2 separate regions of the Homo sapiens genome follow, and region 2 is linked to region 1. Evidence: fine-mapped expression QTL. A gene starts in region 1. The other region holds a variant in brackets. All regions are shown on one strand. Distances are between the middles of the regions.

Region 1 (8,809 bases):
TGGCCGCACGCCGCGTGCTCTTCACCTGTTCCTGCGCACCGGCGGGCGCTGGGCGCGCGGCGCTTCTAGAGGCTGTGCAAGTTGCGCGCATTCCTGGGGCTCAAGCTGGTTCCTTCCCGCCTCTCTCCGCCCTCCTCTCCGAAATCCCACCCCAGTTTCCTCTCACCTAGTTGGGCCAGCGCTTGGATTCCCAAGCCAGCCGGCCTCGGCCTCCCGCCACTCAAAGCCGTCTCTCTAGGGGTCGCGGCGAGCCTGCCGCGCAGAGCGGAGCGCAGGGGACTGGCGGGGGCGCCCGGGGCAGGGAGGGAGGCAGGCTAGCGGCTGCACTGCGGTCTGGCGAGGCGGCGCAGTGAGGAGAGGGGCAGCCTGGTGCGCGTCGCCCATGCGGCCTCCCAGCCACGCGCCAGCCCAAGGTGCCGCGCGCCGCGACCGCCGTGTTATTTGCTCAGTTGCTCCCCCGCGCGCACCTTCTGCCCCATCTTGCTCCTTCCCAGAATTGGTTCTCGTCGCCGGCGGCGGCGGCTGAACCAGGCCCCCTTCCCGGCCGGCGCACACCGGGTGAGTCAGAGGTATGTGGCTTGGCCTCGCCCTGGCCACCCGCTGCCGGCTCCCAGGGTGCCAGTGCTTTGCTCCGCCTGAAAGCCTGAGCAGCTCACGGCTTGAGATCGCATTTTGGGGAGCTGGAGGTCCCTGGCAGGTCCCAGCTTCGAATCCCACCCTGAGATCCCACCCCGGGTCCGAGGTTGCCCCGAACTCCGCGCCTCTGGGCTTCTCTGGAAGTGACGCAGCACTGCTGGGGATTGGGATGGGAGGGGGTTCTGCAGAGAGCGCGGCAGGCAGGTGGCAGAGCGGGAGTGGGTCCAAGCGGGTGTCGCGCACACACGTACACACACTCCAAGCAGCGCTCGGGGACAGATGTGCGAACATCTGGGGTAGGAGATGGCCCCTGAGTCTTCACGACCCCTCCCGCTCCGCACAGCACACGGAACCTGAAGTTGCATGTGTGTGCGCGCCAGTGTGAGTGCCAGTGTGTGCGCGCTCGCGCGCTGGGGCCTACTGGAGTCCGTGTCTGAATACATAATATACTGTGGGCATCCTCACGGCGCGCGCGCGTGTGCACACACACACAGCGAATCACACAAACATACATAATTTACGCAGCATCCAGGTCTGTGAGTGGTAATTTAATTCCGCTTCAAGCTGGGAATTTAGAAATAAGGCAAGGGGGAACGGCGGAGGCCCAGAAAATCTCCCCAAGTGGGACCCCCACCCATCCCTTTGGCAGGATTTGCAGCTGCCCTGAAGACCACTTATGGCAAAGAAAGAGCTGCAAACGTGCGGATCTGGGTGGCAAAGGCATTCCTGAATTTTCTTCCCCCCTCAAATAAATGCCCAAGCTTAAAGTGGTGTGTGTGCTGGTGGGGGGCGTGAGGAGAAGGAAGGGTGACAGTACCAGATGCAAGGCTAGGATCCACTAGCTGATGTTCTGGGGATGCCAAGGAGGCTGCAGAGTTAGCTCTACCACTGCCGCCATCGCCTTGCAAGTGCCTTGGGTGAGGGCACTTCAGGAAGGCTTTTTCGCCTTTCTTTCACCCATTTCCTCCATAGATGGTTTCTCCATCTCCAATCACCTGTAGCAGCTGCTAAGAGTTTTGTTGTTAGATTCCAGACACTGTTCTCAGAGGGGTAGGGAGGCTCACTCTAGAGAGTGGTCCGAGAAGGAAGCACAAACCCCACTGCATTCCCCATGGATTCCCCTTTCCAGAGCATACCCCTTGCCGCTCCCCACAAATGCGGTCCCCAGACTGTTCTGGGCCTCGAAATGCTTATCTCCACAGCAGCCTGTCCACACACCCTTTTTGGCAGTGGTTGAGAACAAATTCCACTCAAAAGTTTCTAACCACTTCACAAGAGTGAGAGACCTTCGAGGGCCTGCAATTTGTTTTAGCTAATAATAATTTCTAAAAGAACGTACGATTTACTTTCCCAGACAACACATGGATGAAGAGAGAAGAGACCAACCGTCTTGGTTGCCAGCAGCACCCAACCCCAAGCCCCTATCTCAGCCACAAGCCAACTTGCTCCACCAGCCTGAGCCTTATGATTCTGAAGCATAACCAGTCATTCTCCAAAGAATCTACAGCATCTGAAAACCAAAACTAAACTCTTGTCTTTCCCAAGCCCTTCAGTTAACATTGCTCAATGTAGCTAAGTGGAGGGAATGCAAATGATTTATATTTCACTGGCTAGTTGGAGAAACTCAAGGGAGATGTGTTCTGCTTCAAGACAGGGAAAAAAAATTCCCAAAAACTGTAATGCAAAGGCTTTGTAGTATTTTTAAACCTTTGATTCAGTCCATATGTGACATATGAACACCGCCAAATTCTGTTTCAAAACACACTCACACACACACACACACACACACACACACACTCCTAGCAGGAGAGGAAAGTTGGGTTTTAGCAGCCGTGGTGGTGTAGGAAGGGCCGGCTGGGATCTCTCTTTAAATTATTGAGTACTGAGGGAGCCTTCTTCTGTGCCGTTCTGCGTGGCCTTCCTGCTTTAGCGGTCACTTTTAAAGGGGAAACCATGTTGCAATAAATAGAAAAACTTTCAGTGGCTTACCTGGTTGGCCTCTCACTTGGTGTCTTGAAAAGTAGAGGGCTAAGAAAACCCAGGTGAGAGGAAACATATCCATTTTGGAGAAGGTGGCTCTTTCCAGAGCTGGGTTCGTAGGTTTCTTGTTTAAATCTTTGTGTTTTTCTCTCTTTTATTTTCCTCCTTACAACGTCTTATGCAGAGGTTTCTAATGGTCAGCGTTTCCCTCCTGAGTCCTGGTGGCTTGTCTTCACCTCTATTCTTGCTGGAATTTCCACCTCACCAGGAGGAGAGTAGCTCCTGAAATCAGCAAAGAGGGAACAAGCCGGGAAGAGAACACGGTTTTCCTCTTAAAAACAAAACGCATATATGTTCTCTCCAGTTCCTCAAAGTGTCATTTCCTTTATCCTACAAATATCACGAGTATTTCCCGAAAGCCAAGCGTAACAATAATGATAATAATAATAATTAAAACCAAGACTTGCCTTGGGCATCACACGGCCCCCAGGCAGCTGTGTGATCTCAGAGGCGTAAACTGACACACATCCCGCGGCACCCTTGACGGACACACGGGCGGAGGCAGCCGCCGCCGGACAGCCCGAGTGGAAGGCGGCCGCCCTGCTCTTGTCCTCGCCGGGTTCCCCCGGCGGGAGCCTCCCCCAACGGCTACACCCGCTTGGCCAGCCTCTCGAGGGGAGTCTGAGGAAGGAAGCTGCTGCTGCTGTTGCTGCTGCTGGTGCGGCGGCGGTGGCGGCTGGGATCGCCTGGGAGTGAGCGAGCCCCTCTCCGAGTTCGCTGGCGCCCGCCCTCACCTCCACCTCGCCGAGTGTCTGTGCGGCTGAGGATGTGCTGGGGGCCGGCTGCAGGCTGGTGCCTCGCTCGCGATCTCTGCCTCCCCTCCGGCTCCCCACTGCCTTTTCAGGCCGAGCAGCATGTGGATGTCAGAGCCGCGGCAGAGCTATCCGATTACGCGCCGGCTCAGGGCCCGCCCCTTCTGTGTTCCTGATTAAAGAGGCAGCCGCGGAGACGCGCGGCGCAGAGCAGAGTGCCGCGGCACCCAGCTCGGGCGGGGCGGCGACGGCTTCTCTCGGGCCGCCGCAGGATCGAAGTTAAGGCGGCGCCCATCCCACCACCCCTCGCCCGCCCCGCATCTCCCGATCGCCCCCGCGCACCTCCGCGCCGGGCCGCCGGTGCGTAACGCCCTGGGGAAGAAGCGCCCCCGGGCACCCCCAGGGCGCGCCGCCTTGGCCGTGTCGCCCCCACCCAAGGGAGACCCCGGGGGGACGGGGGGAAAAGCCTTGTTCCCCCTAAATTCCACGACTCCGATGCCACACACGCAGAACCCAACACAATGCCACGCGCGATGGCGTTACAAGAGGAGTTGGGTGGCGTACGGTGTTTGGGGTAGCGAGCCGGTCGGCAGCTCAGCCATGCGTTCGAACAGGCAGCGGTGCGTGGCGGCGACACACACCGTCAGCCCGGTCTGAATAAAACCCCAAACACTCGCTGCGTTTACTACTCAGATCCTTTGTTATGTCCCAAACATGCTCTGCTCCTCTCTGGGTTAGGATTTCGTTACCCCTGCGCCTTTAACTGTAACTACCCTAAAAAGAGGAAAGACTTTCTTCAGCAAATAATTTCTTCAGGTAATTAAATTGGATTCCATCAAGTTCCCCCGAAAAAGTATAGGTGCTTGAAGGCGTCTCATCCAAATGCTACTGTAACTACGTCTATTCACATTTTCCCCCATGGAAACGTGGTCACAAAGCCTAGAGAAAGAAAACATCATTATGCCAACTATTTTTAAATGGAGGCGTGAAAACTGTTTAGAGGGAACTGCAAGCTAACAGTTGGGGAAACACTTGTATCTTTGTTTCTGAGGATGGCTTTGTGGATTCCAAACTGTCTTGCTTCACCAGACACCTATTACTACATTATCATAAAGACTGCAACAGAAACAGCCTAAATTACACCCTGCACATGTACACCTTTTCTGCCACAAAAGAGGTATATGAAAAATAAGAAAATTCAGAAAAATATTTACAGATTAAGATTTTTTTTAAATTAAGAAAGTAAAATTTTCTGTAGATTAAGAAAAATACAGTTTCGGTGACGAGAAACACACACCTGACTACCCATTTTCTTCTTGGCTTGTACTTGTGGATTCTTCTGGGTGGTTTCCCTCCTTATCTGGACTTGCCCATTAGCTTTATCACTTTTAGTGTTTGAAAAATCTGTAACTCCCACTTAACTGTTATTTACACTGAGATAACCAAAACAAAATTGAATCAGAAGTGATTTGCAAATAGTTGAGCCAAGCTGTGTTGGGGGGTGGCGCGGGATTTTAGAGTGGAAATCCACAGGCTGAGTATCACACTGTTAATCTCAGATGCCTGGTTGGGAAAGGCACAGCACAGAGGCCTCTGAGTTCTTCCAGGGAGCATGTCTCTTGGCTAGCCTAAATGCTACCTTTCATTCCCTCTTTGCCTCCCTCCTTCCTCTTCCTCCCTCCTTTCCTTCCTTCTTCCTTCCTTTCTAGGCTTGAGAGCACATCCACATTATTAAAAACTCCAGATTTACATTTCTCCTCTTTAAAGCTCAATTGTAAAGAATGACTCCAAGCCTTAAATATTTAACAAAGTAAAAGAGCAGTTTGGATTATTAACCTTAAGCAGAGATCCCGGTTTATGTCATTGCCAAGATGCTAATCTAAGGACAAAGAACGCTATCTGTAGTGACAGTCCCTGAATAGAGAGGGCCATTTAATATCACCTCTCCCCACCACTCACCAGGCATGCCAAACCATTTTTGCCAGTGCCCAATGTGGGAGACTCCTGTTTGTGAGAATAATGTAGCCAGGGTTTAGGTGAAGGGCACTGTGAAAGGGGGAAAGAAGAGAGAAAAGGTAAACCTAAGCCCACTGGAGAACCATAAGAATGACAACCCTGGACTTCTGGTCTTGGGGTCTCAGGGATGAAGGTCCCCATCAGGCTGCTTCCAGAGTAGAGAAAAGTAAGAATCAGTTTTGTTCCTGGCCTGGTTGCCTACACTGTAACTTTTCATTTTTCAGCGGTGTCCTACAGGGGACGCTCACTTACTTCCTGGGAGTCCTCTGTACCAGGGCTGCAAGACTTCCCACTCCCCTTGAGTGAAGGCCTCATTTCCTGCAGTTGGACAGAGAGTGAGTCTCAGGTTTCCATCCCTGGGGACTCAAGCGGCCAGACCATTTTTCAATCCTCTAGGGGGCAGCACTCAATAAATAATGGTAACACCACCCAGGGTCACACTTCTGGTGGTGCTTTTAATTCCAAGGAGTTCAAAGTGCTTTATCAGACCAGGGAAGATTCAGAGTGAGGCCGATCTCTCCCCAGCCTACTCTGAACAAGACCCCACCGGCCCAGAGAGGGCTTAGAATTGTTTTAACCTAAGACTTCCAAGGACTCTTGGGAACTAAACACAAATCTCACATGTGCCACATGGAAAACAAATCTTTAGGGAAATTCTTCACACTGGGACTGGCTCAGACCTGCCAGTCTTGTTTCCCTCTAGACTGGGATCTCAGGGTTTGACTGCAGTTGGTCTGGTTTCCACCAGAGGTATAGTGGTAAAGAGCTAGGTAGGCACCGTGCTTTTCAGTATTTTGTGAGTCCACATCCCTGGCCCATAGGGAAGCCTGCCTACCTAAAGGCCAGTGTCAAAAATCGGGTTTGTGATCAAAAACACTGAGCTGACTAGATAACAGCTAATTAGCGAAGCTGAGATTCCTGGCCACATCACTGACTCACCTAGGATGTTTCATGTCATTATCCTTAGTTGTAAAATAATACTAGATAATCCACTCCACATTCCATTCCTTTGACGGGAAGGGATGTGGGGGAACATGAAACAGGTTGGTAAATGATGCTAAGAGAAAGCTGTTACCAAGCCACACCCCTGTGGAAAGTTAAGTGTTCCCAGCTAGACAGTCCCAAACCTTAGGGTATATCAGCATCACCTGGAGGAAGTGTTAAAAATTCTGATTCCTGGGAACCATTTTCCTGCAGGTGAAATTCCTTGGGTCTGGAGTGGTCTTTGGGAATCTGTATTTTTAACACACATCTTAGGTGATTCTGATGCAAAGCCTCCACAGACCAGTAGTTGGGAACTTCTGATCTGATGTGTTCTATTTACACACAGCCTTCCATAAATGCTCTTCCGTTGAAGGAAACCTGGACAAGCATTCCTTCACATTTCCTCTCTGGGTACTTTTCAATATGGGGCAGATGTTTCAGGTTTCTTGGAAAAACCACCAAGAACAAGTTCTCGAAAATGCTGCAGTGGTGGAATTCCCAGATTTACCTGTGACCTTTAGCAGCAACTGCAGAGAGCCAATTTGAAAACACCAAAAGCCTCGCCTCATGCAGGCAGGAGCTTTGCAGGGACATGTTCAAAGTAGCGGCTGATGGGTTTATGAGCTGGAGCCAGACCTTTCATCACCAGCCCACTCAACCATTGGTGGTTACTAGAGGTTCGTTTCAGGTATGCTTTTCCATCTGTGTTCATCCCACTGTACTTACGAAATGTTCATGGATGCATGACTATGCCAGAGGTATGCGAGCAAGACAGAGATTTAGGTCTTGCCTCTCGGGAACACAGGATCTAAAAGCTCCAGAAGTTTCATGCTTCCACAATAGATATCACGTGTCACATGGTGCTTCCCCTTATCGGAGCCCTAACATCAATAAGCTCTCACCCTGAAAAGGAAAGATCTAAGGCATAATTGCATCTTAATCTGTAATTTAACACACTGCCCTAGTTAAGGTTTAGCTACATCTGTCTCAGAAGCAAAGCTTCAGTTAAAATGGAATAGGTCCTAATTTATTATTCTCTCTTTTGTTTGATGTCAAAGTCCAGGTTTCTGGTCACTAAGGGTTTTTTTTTTTTTCTTACTCGCCTTTTAAACAATCAACTTTTTTTTTTTCCAGCACACTTGAATATTGCCCAGTAGTTTCTATTTGACATTTCTATTCTAAATTGATATTTCTAGTATATTCTATTTGGTGGGTTTCTGGAATCCTTACAGATTTCCATAAAGTATTGAAATCTCCTTCACTCCATACTGGGTGTATATCTCATTTCTTCCTCAGACACAAACACTGGATCTGGTAGGAGGGGCCCTTATGAAACAAAATTTAAAAAGCAGCAGCAAAATGTGCAAAATTCATTCAGACCTCCCTGGAATCCTTGGAAAAAGAACCTAAAGAAGCCCTATTGCTTCTTCCAGTCTGCCTGGCTTTAGCATGAGTCTGATCTTCCTATGCTACATTAATTTTTCTACCTTTGAGGCAATAAGCGTATCAAAAAGACCCAGTCAACCCTCTCCCTTAAAACAGCACTCTCCATTAAATCTTCTGCAAGGACGGTGGTCTCTGTGCTGTTCACATGGCTACTGCGCACTGGAAATGTGGCTAGTGTGAGTGAGTCACTGAACTGTAGGTTGTATTTAATTTTATTCATTTAAATGTAAATTGCCGCATGTGCTTACCAGCTACCATGTTGGACAACTCAGCCTCAGAATCAAAAGACCAGAGCTGAATAATTCCCATAGAAACCCATAGAAATTCACACCCTTATCAATCTCTGTGGTTACCATACTTGTTTGCCAAGAAAGGAACCCCAGTATCAGCAGAAGTTCTGATTACCAAGGCAGCATTTGAAAATGCTCACTGTCTGTTTGGTTAAGGAAGAGAAGAGCTAGCTTATATTCATATTATTGTCTATCATCCCATGTTCTTTCTACGCTCTCTTGGATGACTTTCCCAGAGCACTCACCAGGAGTCAGGGTCTTTATGATGCTCTCCCAGCTTCGGGCCTCAACTCCACTCGTCAGTGGAGACCACCGCGGAGAAGCAGGTGGGGGCAGCAGAAGCCTTGAGGACAGGGCAGCTGGACCTTCAGTCTCTACTTGGGTGTCCTTGAAAATTCTGTTAACCAATTTGGAACCACTTTTCTCACCTACAGAATGATGGGTTGACTTGAATGATTTTTAACCTTATCTGGTTTTGAGTTTTGGCTATGACTCTTTCCTGATCGCATTCTCACTCGTGGATTTAAAACAGGCTTTAGTCTGAATTCTGTAGGCCAACCTAAGCAAGTTGAAATTAATGCTCTTTTATCCTTAAACTGTTAATGCATGGATGGGGCTTCAATGGATATTCCATCATCATAGTAT
Region 2 (8,809 bases), 63 kb before region 1:
TAAATAGCAAATAACCTCGAAGTGTCCTAATTTGTAAGTTCAAGTTTGTCACTGTGTCATAGAAACTCGATTGTAAAGCAAACTATGGGGCAGTAAGGCAAAACATAATTATTTGAAACACAAACCAACTAACAGGTGAAGCAGCCCTGTCAAAGTATTTAGCTGCAGCAGCTCAGCCCAGCCCATTATTTTTCCTGTTATCCTTTGGGATAGGGATGAAGAAGTGAACCGAAGATGAGTGTGAGAAACAGATGGAAATTCGAAAAGCAAACATAGCCACGTGACCTATGGAGAACAGTTTCTGGAAATGTTAGGTAGCAAAATGGGTCAGCTGATTGGTGTAAAGAATGTTAAACCCAGGGGCCAATGAGGCACCGGAGGGCAGGGCGTGTAAATGAAAGTGGAGGAACGGCGGGCACCGAGGCCTCGGTGTTTATACTGTTTGTACTATGTTTGTACTGGGTGCTCCAAGGTAACTGCCCATCAAACAGCAACGCTACCCCTGAAATTGAAACCAGATGTCAGAGACTTCAAAGGAAAGGAGGCTGGGCAGAGGGGAACGCTCCTCAACTCTGATCTTCCAAGGAATGGCCAGGCAGGGCTTTGAAATAAGAAACCTGTCACTGACCATCACCAGTGTAATTTGGGGCATGTTGGGATTGGGGAGCAATGAAGGAAAGAGGTCATTAGCAACTGTCCCACTGGCCAGACTGGGAGGGCATGGCACTGAAGGGCAAGGGATGGGGGGAAGAATGAGGTGGACTTCATCCAGCTGAGTGACCTCTGGCAAGTGACTTCTACCTTCTGGGGCTGTTTCCTTGTCTATGAAAGAGGAATTGGCCCAGGTCTGTGATATTTCCCAAACCACGCATCACTCTCATCATTGGGTTGTGGAATCCGTCGAATAGGTCATGACCAGCTTTTAAAACATACCGACTATAATATTTTGGAGTGCACTTCCATGGTTAAGATGACCATTGCTTTGGGAACCTTTTGTTTCAGTTACAGTTATTTATCATAACAGGTTTGCTGGGTGCAGGCAGTAGTCTAAGTATTTCACATCCATTCATTCATTTAATCCTCACAATGACCCTATGGGGTAGACAGACTATTGTCCTCTCCATTTTTCAGCTAAGATAACCAAGGCGCTGAGAGACTAACTTTTCTGAGGTTATGCAGCCAGCCAATGGCAGGGGCAGGACTTGAACTTGGCAATCTGTCTCCAGAGTCCAAGCACTTACCCATACACTGTACCCCGTATACACCACTGTGTGTGAGTGCTTATAAGTGAAGCGGGTTGTGAAGGAAAATTATTTTAAATTGTGTATCATGGGCAGAAGTGTGTGAAAGCCACTGGCTTACAAGCTCCTGGATCCCCTACAGCGCTGAGCCCCTGATTCCAGGGCACATAAATGAAGCCAGCTTGTATCGGGGGGAGGTTTTCTGCACCTGTGAGAGGACGGGTGACACACGTTTAGCAGGCTGCAGGGAACTTTGGCCTCATCCCCAGGTAATGGGGAGTTAAGTGTCTTCCTATGAAGATGTGTTCGCTGGGGCTGCCTTCAATTCAAAAGTGAGGAGGCTAATTTGGGCCCAATTCCCAGCCCGTGTGCCTCAACAGGGCTCCTCTGCGCTGCTGTAGCCAGCATACAGGCAGCATTTTTCTCCCTGGGAGCCAAAAGCACTTCTCCGACATGCCCTTATTAATCCCTCATGCCATCCTGCCGGCTGAGCCCGTGACAGGTACGGCACAGACAGGAAAATGGGGATACCTGGGGCTCTGGCGGAGGAGGGCAGGATAGCTCAGGCTGGTGGCTGCTCCTGCTGGCATCAGGCTCAGTCCCTGAGCCCCAGTGGCTCCCACAAACTCCTTTTGGCAGGCAGTGAGTGAGCTCTGGGTAAGATCTGGTGCCAGCTCTGCTGAGGGAGGAGGGCTGGCGACCCAAGGAAAGGAAGGTAGGGCCTGACTCAGAAGGGCAGGGCCCTCCCTCGGAAACCAGGAAGGCTGGGCACCCTCCGTGGGCCTCACCCTCATTTGGAATGATGAGAGGTGTTCCCCAAGGCCTGGGCCACCTGGCAGGAATGAGCAGGACAATGAGAAGGAGTCCTGCCCCCATCAGCTCCCTGCAACAGGGTCCCTCCTGAGCAAATAAATGCCTTTTACAGATGTGGCTCCGAAATGAAAATGAAGTCTCTTAGCCACTGACATCTGGAGGCCAGATTCAGACATAAACCGATTACTTTATTATCATGAGGGGTTTTTTTCTTCCCTAAATCAACAGCCACAGCCCTCTGGCCTGAAGAGCCAGGGTCTAATTGAATTTGGGTGGGTGGTGTGTGGTTATGATTTGTTTTTGAGAGACTCGGGTTGGAGAACTGAAATGATCCCTTAAAAAAGACAAAGTACATCCCTTGAGAAACTGTCCCAAGTCCAGAGGCTGCAGTACCCGTGGTCTGAGGCAGGAGAACATGGCAGGGGTCTGCAGCATTTCCAGCTCCTGGGATGGCTGCCCCCTCCACAGCCCTCCCAGGGCCTCGTGGGATGCCAGGGTCAGAGGACCATGTGGGTGAGATGCAAAGAGGAGGAAATGTCATCTTACCTGTCCAGTCACAGCCCAGCACCTCCAGCCGCATCCCAATCCCCGCCGGCGACCACCTCTCCGGGTATACCCGCACATACTGTGCCGGAATGGGGTCAAACCTTCGGATGTCAGGGGTGTCATAGTGCATGTTCCCTTCGAACAGCTGCAGGGAGAGAGGCCACTCAGCCCTTCTGGTGTGGGACCCAGTCCCTATCACCTTCTTCCCTTTCCTTCCCCTTCTCCTCCCTGCCCCGCACGTCCTGCTAGGAAGGCAGCTTCCTAGTTGATTCCTGGTCACTGGGACATTCTGATCCACGCGAGCTTCATTTTCAGACCAAGGATTTTATTCATTTGGAAGGTGGTTATGGACCCAGAATTATGGAAAATAGGAAGTAAACAAAGGTGGCAATTTCCAGGTTGTGTCTTTTACCTGGTGACTAAAATGGAGTATCTGGGGAAGAATTTGGCTCCAACTGCGTTTTCAGCTGACTTTGGCTAGAGAGGGGGGAAGGCAGTTTGGGCGATCTTTGACCGTTCTGAATTCCTGGTCTACAGGGAAAGGAACACTTCTTTTTCTAATGTGTGAAAGCCTCCATTGAGGTAACCCAAGCTGACTGATAGTTCCTAGCTCACTGAGAACCTTACGGGAAAATGACCCCTAGGCCAATGACACTGTCTTCTGGTCACACATCGATAGTCTTAGACTGTTTCCCAAACCTTTGTTTAGGGAAAGCACTCCTGTCAAAAGAAACCTCACATGGAGCCCCAGTACATAAAACTGATGATGCGGGGAGCAGGGGGCTGCTTTGGAGGACCAGCCTAGAGTACACTTGGAGACACTCATCCGGGGGAAGGACAGGAGTGGGTGGCCAGGGCCTGCAGCTGATTAGCCCCCAGAAATTCAGCAGGACCGCTCCAGTTTTCAGGATGCCCTGCGTCCACAATTCTGAACCAGAAGCACTGTCTCGGATAGGGCTGTCTCCCACAATGGCAAAGATCAACTTCTTTCCCAAGAAAAACCAGGCTCAGCTCTCCATGGGGAAGCCTGCGGTCCAACTTCTGCTCCATCGATGCAAGGTTCCAGTTACCAAGCCCTGAGCCTTTCTAAGCCTCTGGAGTTGAGAGCTGGGAGTTTACCTCAGCATCGCAAAACCTCCAACCCAACTCTTGCCTCTGTATTCAGAATGGAGACATTTGCTTAGCAAAGGTGGCCCCGAGACATGCAAACTCCCTCCTTTTTTAGGGACCTGTTCTTTTGAGAAAAACAAGGGGTAACTAGAGATAAGAATCAGAGAGCCTGGCCTGCCAGGAGACTGATCTGGGGAGGGACAGAGGTATGACGTCTCCTCCCCTTCTGGGGCTCCTTGTGTCTGTGTTGAAGGCTGACCTTCACTCTGGTGGCAGGGGAGTAAGCTGTACTGGCCTGAGCTTCTGGCTCGGGGTGAGTTTCTCTTGCTTCTCCCTTGCCTCAGTCTGAGAGGCCGGAAAGATCTAAGCAGTCAAAACTAGGAGAATACAAAGGAATGCAGCGACATTCAGAAAAACATCGTTATTTTTGGAAGTCATCCTCTAGTTTCTATAGCTTGGCCTCCAAAAACCACATCCCCTTTAGATGTCTGGCCAATTTCAAGGAAACTTTATCTGAAAGAGTGTATAAAGAGTGTTGAACTTTATAAAAAGGCAGTGTTCAGTAGGGGTTAGGCATCTGGACTTTGGAGTCAGACTTCCGGTTTCTGAATCGGCTCTATCACAGGTGAACTGTGTGACCCTGGGCATGATATCAAGTGTCAGTTTATCATCTCTAAAATGGGAGTGACAAAAAGATCTACTTTGCACAGATGTTGTAACGATTAAAAAAGAGTCCAGGCCGGGCGCGGTGGTTCATGCCTATAATCCCAGCACTTTGAGAGGCCAAGGCAAGTGGATCACTTGAGGTCAGGAGTTCGAGACCAGCCTGACCAATACGGTGAAACCCCATCTCTACCAGAAATACAAAAATTAGCTAGGTGTGGTGGCGGGCACCTGTAATCCCAGCCACTCAGGAGGCTGAGGCTGGAGAATCGCTTGAACCCTGGAGGCGGAGGTTGCAGTGAGCCGAGAACAGGCCACTGCACTCCAGCCTGGGTGACAGAGACTCCATCTCAAAAACAAACAAACAAACAAACAAA[A/CAAAA]GAGTCAGAAATAAGGTATTTAGCACAGTGCCTGGCACAAAGTAATCTCTCAAACGATATTTGTTTTATTGGATTTCAGGAGTTGGATGACGACTGTTTAGATGGGACATCATCAGTCTCAACTCCCTGTACCACACTTAGCCTCCCTGTTGAGGGTAACGTTACAGAGGCCTCCAAGAACAGCCTACCTTTGGCTGCTGGGTCCTGGGGTCCTGAATGTATTCCCAGTCCTTGCCGTTTAGGCTGTAGGAGACTTTGAACTTGCGCACAAATGCTCTGGCTTCCACAGCAGTGATACTGTCTCCTCCGCGGGCTCCCTGGATGATGACACCTTTCACTGTCTTGGGTGTTCCCAGATCTACCTGAAGCCACTCCTCACCGGGCTGGGCCTGAGGGATTCGAGGGAACCAGCCCGAGCGGCTGCTAACCAGGCGGGCTGCACTGGGGCTCCAGAGGTATTCCTGGGTGGAAGAGGCGGAGATCTGGGAGTCTGCAATGAGGCCTGAGAGCATCCCCAGCATGTTGGAGCAGGGAGCATCTGCAGAGAGGAGAGGAAGATACAAGAGGTCATGGCTGACACCTGCTAACCAGGGACCACCCGCTATAAGAAGGGAGCTGCAAAAGAGCCCAACTGTCAAATACTAAGTCAGCACTAATTTCTTTGCATGGTGAATGTGTACAGCACTGTGGTTAAGAGCCTGGACTCAGAGCTAGACTGCCTGTGTTCATGTTCACTCTGCCACTTACTAGTCAGAGGGCCTTGGGCAAATTATTTAATTGCTCTTTGCCTCAGTTTCCTTAGATCTAAAGGGGAGCTAATAGAGGTGCCTACCTCTTGAGGGCTGTTGCAAGGATTCTGTTAGTTACTAAGAGCTCACAGGATGGTGCCTGGCATATTTAAGTATCCAATGGCCATTAACTATTTGTGCTTACAGCTCTAACCAAGGACTCTCAGAATGTGTGTCTGCACATCCCTGTCGATGACACTAGTCCCCACTGACCCTATCAGGGACACTGAGAACAGGGGAACTGAGCTAAACATTGAATTATTTCCTAGTAATTGTTTTGCCAAGTAGAAGGAAACCTTCCTGGCATCAGTATCAGGTCTTTACTTCCCAAATAACTGCTCTTTACTGCCTTGGATCCTTCCCACATGCTGTTCCCATTACCCCAAATGCTTTTCCCTTCAGTCACCCCCAGACTAACATTTTCTTACCCCCAAGCTCAAGTGTCATATCCACAGAAAAGCTGTTCCCAAATTTTCAATCCTCACTAAATTGGTTTCCCTCAGAGCACCCTGTTCTTTTCCTTCATGTGCACATTCTAGTTTATCCAGTACTTGCATTTGTTTATTATCTATCTTGCTCAGTAGCCTGAAAGTTCTACGATGTCAGAGACCCCATCTATTTTGTTCCTGTCTCTATGTCCCATTCCCAGTGTGTGCCTGGCACATCAGATGTGTGGAACAAATGATTGAGTGGAGAATGCATGAATAAATGATGTCAGGCAAGGCAGGGTCTATAGTCAATGTGCATTTCATACTTGCAAACTGAGCTATGGATAAAAAAGATCCTCCACGTTGTTCCCCTTCTTCAAAATCACTGGTTCTCTCCTTTCAATCTTCCAGAGAATGACCTCTACCTAAATCTTTGCTGATTATCCTGGAACAGCAACAGGGAAGGGACAGAAAATAGTCCCCTAGACAGGATTAGCATAAACTGATCCCATTAGAAGAAAATGGGTCTTTGTGTAAATGTGGTAAGAGCAGAGAATTTGAATTGAGAAAACGTGGGTTCAGATCCTGGCTCTGTCACCTCCTAGTTGAATGACTTTGGGCAAGCTATTTAGCCTCTTTGAGTCTTGGTTTCCTTATCAGTCCCTGGCCCACCTTACCTCACAGGGTTGTTAGAAAGTGTAGGCAAGATGATAAACAAGAAAGGCATGTGGAGATGCAGAGACTGTACAAACACAAGGTGTTTTAACTAGAAACCTCAAACAGGGTCAGACCTTGGAGCACTCCCTGTCAGAGCTGGAATGATTAGGGGAAAGGCACGTGGATGGATGTACACTGAAGACACTTCCAGGTCAAAGAGGCAACTTGCCTGCCCTGGGCTGAGCCCACAAGATAAAGGGGATTGGTCTGTCCATAAATTTCTGGGGCTAATCCAGCCATCATCATCTCCCATCTGCACCCCCTGCATTGCCTCCTATAATGTCCCAACTCCCACTCTGGTCTTCTCCAATCTACATGCCTTGGGTTTCAGCCCACAAGCTGTGTCCATGCTCCTCACTTCCTCTTTTGGTCCCTCTTGCCACCGTGCCATTGAGAAAGCTGTGACCATTGCCTGGTGCACCTTCCCTCCCTTCTTCACCAGGTAATGTCTGTTATTTGCCTTCTAACCTCACCTCAATCATCACCTCCTCAAAGAAGTCTTCCTTGAGCTCCTAGGCTGGGTCAAATCCCCTACGATGTACTTCCAAGGACCATAAGCCTCTATGTCCAGACATTGATCATAGTTTTGATTTTATATTTATTTATGAGTTTATCAGTATGTCTGCCCAACTTGTCCATATGCCCACACAGAACAGTCTGTTGTGCCCACCTTTGTGTCCACAGCACCATGCACAGCTCTTGGCCCCCGGTTGAGGCAGCAGAGAGTGTTATTTGAAAGCAAGGGCTTTGGACTGGAACTGCCTAGATTCAAACCATGGCTCTACCACTTACTGGTGAGTGACCTAGCTCTTTAAGTCTTGGTTTCCTCATCTGTAAAGTGAGGAGAATAATACCCATGGAGTCCTTATGAGGATAATAAAATATGTTACATCTTAGGTGCTTAGAATGGCATCTGTACCTAGTTAGCATTCCATAAATGTTAGCTATTAATAGAAATCGTAGATGCTTAATAAATGTATACTGAATGAATGAATGAAAAGACAAACTCTGGTAGGACTTGAGTCCTTGAGCCAGTCTTTCTGGGAAGGTCATGTGGTGCAGTCATGCTGTTTGCAGAGAGTTGAAAGGGAGCAGAGCCTAGGGCTCAATCAGCACCCCAACCTCATTGGAGCCCCCACCTCACCTGTGACCCGGCAGCCGAAGAGCTCCAGCCGGAGGGCGATACCTGAGTGCCAGGTCTGAGGGCGGATTCTAACAAACCTTGTCAGCAGTGGAGCGTGGAGCTTGTTCAGAACCACCTCAGTTGCATCGTTGTTGGCTTGAAATACCTGTAGCGTAAGATGCAAAACCATGTTATTGAAACCCCTGTTTGTAGTTCAGCCACTTGAGCAGTCTTTGAAGGGGATGGGAAAGTTCTGTCAAATTTTCTTTCCCTCAAGCTTAAAAATAATCAGTGGGTATGTTGTTTTGGGCTTTTTAAAGAAACACTGTAAAAAAAATTAATTTCTCACACTGTTCTACTTGAAAATTATCAGTGGTCTTCCCAGAAACTTTTAGAGGGAAGGAAAATTTTGCCTCCAGGCTGAGAGCAGGCAGAAGAAGGAAAACACTTGAGAAGCTAAGGAAGAAAGAGAAAAGTAGAATATCTGTTTAAAATGAAGTAAAAATATCATCTTTTAGGGCTACCAGACCTCACTCACTAGCTTGAACTTGACACTCCCTCTTCCTCATGTTGCAGGCACCTAGGAATATTTGCAGAGCATTTTCTAATTGCAAAGTGCTTCACGGTTGTTTTTGTTAGTTACTTGATGCCATCCCACCCATGAGCGGACAAGATGATGAGGGGCACCCTCTACCTACAATGGCCCTGTGTCAATCAACACTTTCTTGGTTCTCTCTGATCTTTGTGGCAGGGTCAGGGTTGCAGACAGTCCTTCAGAGTCCTGCTCCAGCTTCCTCTCACTGTAGTCCTGCCCTGTAATGAAATCCATCCCTGTCCCCATCTGACCAATACATCTCTTATGGGAGGGAAGGCTTTTTGGAACAGCTTCTGATCCTACATGGTGGGAGCAAGTCCTGGCTTTCCAGATGGCCCAGATCAATAACTGCCATATGGACCTTATGCTTTTTTGTGCTCTCTGCTCAAAAAAAAAAAAAAAAAAAAG

What was found.
Region 2: its variant is fine-mapped to the expression of NRP2 in monocytes after interferon gamma (Fairfax 2014, PIP 0.95). The same link has a PIP of 0.9 or more in monocytes after LPS.

Annotation. Positions count from the first base shown.
Region 1 is chr2:205,677,180-205,685,988 of GRCh38, reverse strand. It overlaps NRP2 (neuropilin 2), which reads right to left and starts at 3,488. Exons shown (of 17, transcript NM_003872.3): 1 at 2,626-3,488. The coding sequence starts at 2,698. RefSeq lists enhancers at 863-1,493, 6,375-7,574 and a silencer at 3,968-4,087.
Region 2 is chr2:205,739,682-205,748,490 of GRCh38, reverse strand. NRP2 (neuropilin 2) reads right to left here. Exons shown (of 17, transcript NM_003872.3): 8 at 7,828-7,972; 9 at 4,939-5,288; 10 at 2,601-2,745. Among named protein-coding and RNA genes, the nearest start is that of NRP2, 62 kb to the right of the region's middle. RefSeq lists enhancers at 1-336, 1,303-1,854. The variant A/CAAAA (reference allele first, on the strand shown) is at 4,751.